2 separate regions of the Homo sapiens genome follow, and region 1 is linked to region 2. Evidence: fine-mapped QTL for protein levels in blood plasma. A gene starts in region 2. The other region holds a variant in brackets. All regions are shown on one strand. Distances are from middle to middle.

Region 1 (2,906 bases), 150 kb after region 2:
GTAGCCTTTGTTTTCCTGCATAAATGGACTTGTTGAATGCGAACGAATATATGCAATTCATATACTTTTGGAGATGAACGTAGATATGTGTGTCAGCTTTGAGATGGTGTGTCCTGGATTAATACTTTGTCTCCCAATATCACAGAAAAATACATGCCAGTGACTCTTGAGGTTAAGGTAGTTGGGATGAAATGGCCTCAGGCAATTTCACATTCCCTAATTACCTGGAAAGTTCTACAGTAATTAATATGCAGCTAACTCCTGTTGCCCTCACAAGAGCATCAGCCTTCTAGAATCGGAGCTCCGGAGTGTGAAGATTCAGTATTGATATGATATGTATACCAAACTCCAGCCAACTTACTGCCATTTTTCATAATCTGAGTGGCTGCCTTGCTTATCCTAAGCTGTGGTTGCAGAAACCGTGGCCATTTATATAAGCTATAACATCAAATCAGGGAAAAATGAGGAAAAAAAATAGATTCTGAACCATTTATTGTTGAATAAGTAGAGAAAATCATCAATAAATATTTATTACATTCTGACAGGGTGTGTGGCATTGTGTTCTATGCCAGAGTGACAAAGTTGATTCACCCCTTTTTGGGGACCTTAATATATTTTTTAAGGGATGTGCCTATGCATTGATGCCTGAAAAATATGTATAAAGAAATGAGGTTGACTCTTCTGAGCAGTTCATCTTTTCCAGAGGTAAGGGTAGGAGGCCAACTTCAGGGTCTGGGTCTGAGCCCGTGGGCAAGCCCTGGCCGAGTGAGCTCCAATGCTAACTCATGTGCCGATCTCTAGAGCAGTGGGAAACTACCCCGCTGCACCAAATCAAGTAGCTTCACCTTGTGTATGCAGGCCCCAAGTTATTTTTTAGCAATCTTACGAGTGAAATGTTCTGGTGGGTTGAAAAACGTTCTTATTTTAAAGAAAGGTTGTGCTCGCTACACTGCTGGTGTGTGCATTCTGAGACCTCTTGTATTCAATCTGTGAAGGATATGTGTATTAATCCGTACACCCGTATAGCCTCAATATTTGTCTGAAGACACTTAAATTCTGACCCATAAAGGAAAGTTCTAGAAGCAATATTTTCACTTATTTAACATTCTCCAAACAACATCAAGCATTGATACACACTGAAGAGTGCGTTTATTTTTTGTATCACTCTAAGTATGTTGGAATATGCAAGGACTGTGGTTCAAATTAGAATGTATAAGGCATATTATAATTTAGTTCATACTGAA[T/A]AAGAAATTAACAGAACATTGTTCGGTTCACACGTTCCAAACTTTGAGTGATTTCTGGAGTTAGACATAGATTTTCTATTTTGTTTTAATTTGTCAAGGTATTTTTCTTCCCTTCATGAACTTTAGGTACACATAACTTATGTCATTTATTTATGGTCTTTTATACCTAGTTTGTAAAATTGTAAAATAGCAAACTAAATGCAAAGAGTTTGCATTTGAAAATAATAAAGTAGTTGCCGTATACAACCCTGCAATCTGGTTGTCTCTTTCAATAACTTTTGCTATATATATGGTGTGCCTAAATGAATTAATTATTTGTTGTCATTTAATTAAAACAAAAAATCTTAAATTCCAACTGAGCATACTTAGAGGTTAAAAAATTATTATCTTCTAAAGATTCTTCACCCTTCAGAACAATGCATTTGAAAAATCTGACTTAGACCATCGTAATTAAGACTGTAGACTATGGTTGGCATTCAGGCTTCACCACTTACTAATTATACAGTCTAGGGCAAGTCTCTTAACTTCTCTCTGCCCATTTCCTTGCTTGTAGGATAATTACAATGCAAGAGCTTTAAAAAGATTAAATATATTGAAACATTTAGCACAGTGTATAACATCCAGCCAGAACTCAACAAATGGTGGTGATACTCAGTAGCTTTTTTGATGATATAAACTTTCTTCTTCAATACCCCCAGTTCCCTCTCTTACATCCTTGTCACTGATCCAAGCAACCAGCTACCCATCCTTGCCAGGTGCTTTCAACCTAGGATCCACGGATCCTCGAGGGTACATTGGTGCTCCAGCAGGTCCAACAGCATCCCTAAAACTGAACAAATGTCAGTTATTACATTTGTATATGTGTTTTGATGGGGAGGTTTGCAAAATTTCATCAAATTCTAAATTGCTATGGGATATAAAAATATTAAGGATCACTGTTTTAAAGCTGAATGATCTCCTCGTGATGCTATTTCATTAAATTATCAATTGGCAAAGTCCCTATTGATTGAACATCAGATTTAAGTTTTATTTTAGTATCTCAGCTAAAGCCCCTAAGAACAGCTGGCTTCAGAGGGCAGGGGTGTGCCTTTAGTGTTACCGGCAACATTGTAAAACATGGGTCTTGTCTGGTTACTTTGTGTTTATGCCTTACTTAAGCTGCTCTCTAGTGTCAACTATATTAATATGTATGGTAGTTGGCAGCATATTTGTGATTCGAAAGGGATTAGGTTTGGCATTTTCTCCCTCACTTGTTTAGCAAGAGAGAATGTCAACCCACAAAGCATTTTTCCCTAAATGTTCTAAAATGAGCTGGTAGGGTGGTATCAAAATTGCCACTTGTAATTTTTAAATATACTATTATTATTTTTTTTTTTTTTGAGATGGAGTCTCGCTCTCTGGCCCAGGCTGGAGTGCACTGGCATGATCTCAGCTCACTGCAACCTCCACCTCCCGGGTCCAAGCTATTCTCCTGCCTCAGCCTCCCAAGTAGCTGGAACTATAGGCGCATACCACCACGCCCAGCTAATTTTTGTATTTTTAGTAGAGACAGGGTCTCGCCACATTGGCCAGGCTGTTCTTAAGCTCCTGACCTCAGGTGATCCACCCACCTCAGCTTCCCAAAGTGCTGGGATTACAGGCATGAGCTGCCACACCCCGCCT
Region 2 (2,830 bases):
AAAGTTGCTCATGTCATTAGCTCGGCTCTGAGTTTGCATGAGAAACCAGCGCAGCTCTCGAGCCACGGGAGAAAACACGATCTGCTGCGGAGCCCAGTGACCTGAAACTGTAGCAGTGACTCGAGACCTGTCCTCTCCTCGACGTCGCCCTATAACCCTCCCGCTTTATTTAGGATCCGCTTTTCCGAGAGCAGCCACTCAGGCAACCCCCGGAAGGTTTGTTAGGAGTTTCTCCTTGAAACGCTTTCCGATTCCATCTTTTGAAATCCAGCAGGCGAGAGTCACGACAGACTCCAGGACCTCTTGAGCGCTGTCCGCAGCCCCACGGTAGGAGTAGCCCTAGTGCACGAGACTTGGCGGTGGCTGAAAAGCTCGCCCAAACGCACGCACCACCTCTCTGCGGGGTTGCGGATTGCGGGTTGCGGTCTTTGTCCGCTCGCCCTTCCTCCGGGGCCGCACACTCCCGCATCTGGCCGGCAGGTGGCGCGGTTGGCTCACGATGAGCTGCGGCCGGGGCTGGAGAGGCTCCTCCACCTCCCAGCGGCCGCCCGGCCGCCGGGACCCAGGCTCCCCAGGAAAACTCGGCCCTGCTCTGGAGGGAGTCAGAGGAGGGGCGGCCTGGGAAGGGGAAGGGAGGCCTCATTGCTAGGAATCAGTGCCCCTGCCAGCGCCTGGGGAAATGCACCGAGTGGCGTTGGGGACCGGTCCCTGGGACACCGGCTGCGCTGCCTTCGCCGGACCGCTCTTAGGTGGCCGCGTCCACGGCTCGGGCATCGGGAAAAGACCACAGCCCGATGGTGCCAGTGCCCCCGGGGCCGGAGCAGCCGGGCGGGGCTCTGCGGGTCCTCCTGCTCGCCGTCTTCTCCCGGGGCAGGGAGGGCTGCCCCGGCTAGGTCGGAGCGGAGAGTCGCAGCAGCCGCTCCGGGCAGCTTCCCAGTCCCGGTCTGCCTTGTCTGTGCGGCTGCAAGTCCCCGCACCCACACTTAAGCCTTTCACTTCTACCCCACCGCTCCCAGACGGGCTAGGCCCGGTTCCAGGGACTGCCCCCAACCCTGCCCCCGGGAAATCCACAACTGGTTCCCTGCCCAAGGCCATCTCGGGGCGTCCTGGGCCCTGGGCGAGGTCCACGGCGTGTGCAGGGGGACGGGGCCAGCGGGGACTTCCTTACTGCTAGAAAGTCATTCGTTCAGTCTCTGGAGACAGTGACGGAGCCCTGCTGCGGACTGGACGTTGGGGACCAAGTAGGTCCCCGCTCTCCAGGCATCTGGGGAGCCAGGGAAGAAGCGAGTGATAGAGCCACAAAACTCCCCGCAAAGAGTATTTCAGAGGGGGAAGCGCCATAAAGACAAAACAGGGCAAGGTGGCAGAGGGTGGCGGTGGCAGGCGCGAGTCTGCAGCTCAGCCCGGGCGCGCTGGACGCAGACACGTCGACTCTCCTAAAGAAGCAACCGCAGGTCAGCTTAGACTTCTTTTATTTCAATAAAAGAGCGTTTTCCTCCATCTTAAACCGCCCGTGGTGGGAGAAAAGGTTTCCAACCTCTTCTCTGGCTCCCCTCGGTCAATTCCGAGCTTTTCCAAAGTCCCTCCGCCGTCCAGGGGCTCGACCTTCGAGGTAACGTGGGGGATCCCGCTGGCTCCCTCCGGCAGGCGGGGGCGGGGACCGGCCGTGCTCGCCCCCTAGAGCCCCGGGAGACCGCGCGCCCCGTGGAGCCCGGAGGGGGCGGAACCCTGGGGCGGGCCCTGCTCGGTGAAGGCGGGGCTCGGCCGCCCTGTCTGCGCCGCCATTGGCCGCGGGCCCCGGACTGGCGGGCTCACGTCACCGGCCGGGCCCGCCCCCTTGGCAATGTCTTCAGCCCGCTGCTCTCCTAACTTAAGCATTTATTCCACTGGGATAGAAGCGGCAGGAGCAGCGTTGGCACCGGCGAACCATGGCTGGGATTTTCTATTTCGCCCTATTTTCGTGTCTCTTCGGGATTTGCGACGCTGTCACAGGTTCCAGGGTATACCCCGCGAATGAAGGTAAGAGCGGGACGGCCTTTCTGTGGTCGGGGACAGCGAGGGGCCATCGCGGGTGAGGGGTCCTCAGGAGCGCAGGGCCAGGTGGTGCGGGGGGAGCCCAGTGTGAATGGTGCGTCCCGATTCGGGAGAAGGGGGCTGAGGCGAGGGGATCGGCGAAGGGGCAGCGGGGAACCGCCGGACAGCCTGCCCCGAGGCGGTGACCCGTGCACGCGGCGGGTCTGTCCAAGTTTGTAACCAAAGGCCAAAGTTTATCAGCATCCGCCAGAGAGGCCCGCTCGAGGCGCCCTGAGGGGATGCACGGGAGACAACGCCGGGATTTAAAAAAAAAATTACAAGAACCACGTCCTCTCCTGAGCCAGCCCGGGGCGAGGGGAAAACGCAGCCTGGAGCACAGTGAAGGCTTGGTGCTCCCGGATTCTAGCGAAAGCCTTTCGAGCTCTGGTTTCTGCAAAGTTTCCCGAGCCCTGCGCTTCTCGGGACCGGGCTGCGGGGCCTGCTCCGCAGCGCAGCGGTCGTGGCGCCGCTCGTCAGGCGCCAGTGACCTGATTTCTAGCACCCGGAGTCAGACACCTTTCTCCTCGCCAAGCCCAGCGCCCCGAGGGTGCGATTGCGGGCCTGAGGGGCCCGAGCTCTTCGCCCCGCAGACTTGGGGAACCCGCCGGCAAGTTGAACGCAGTCGAGTTTTAGCTTTTCGCCCCAGAATTGCACACAGTTTAGAGCTAACGTGCGGGGTCGACGGGACCCGTCTGGGTGCTCAGTTTTCTGTGCATCCGTTCGGACGTGCTGGGAGGATTGTATGTGCCTGTGTGTC

Direction of the effects. Alleles are on the strand shown, and positions count from the first base shown. The strength of an association depends on the size of the effect and on how common the allele is.
For the plasma level of the protein whose gene starts at base 1,873 in region 2, allele A in region 1 goes with a higher level than allele T (moderate association).

The links. PIP is the posterior inclusion probability: the model's chance that the variant is causal. Protein levels are from antibody-based Olink assays in UK Biobank. Linkage for the fine-mapping came from a reference panel and not from the study's own genotypes, which makes the PIPs less certain.
Region 1: its variant is fine-mapped to the plasma level of the EPHA4 protein (UK Biobank, PIP above 0.99).

The regions. Positions count from the first base shown.
Region 1 is chr2:221,416,619-221,419,524 of GRCh38, reverse strand. EPHA4 (EPH receptor A4) reads left to right here. Exons shown (of 18, transcript NM_004438.5): 18 at 1-1,498. Among named protein-coding and RNA genes, the nearest start is that of EPHA4, 150 kb to the left of the region's middle. The variant T/A (reference allele first, on the strand shown) is at 1,245.
Region 2 is chr2:221,571,347-221,574,176 of GRCh38, reverse strand. EPHA4 (EPH receptor A4) reads left to right here and starts at 1,873. Exons shown (of 18, transcript NM_004438.5): 1 at 1,873-2,019. The coding sequence starts at 1,929. RefSeq lists silencers at 408-567, 618-897, 1,498-1,917.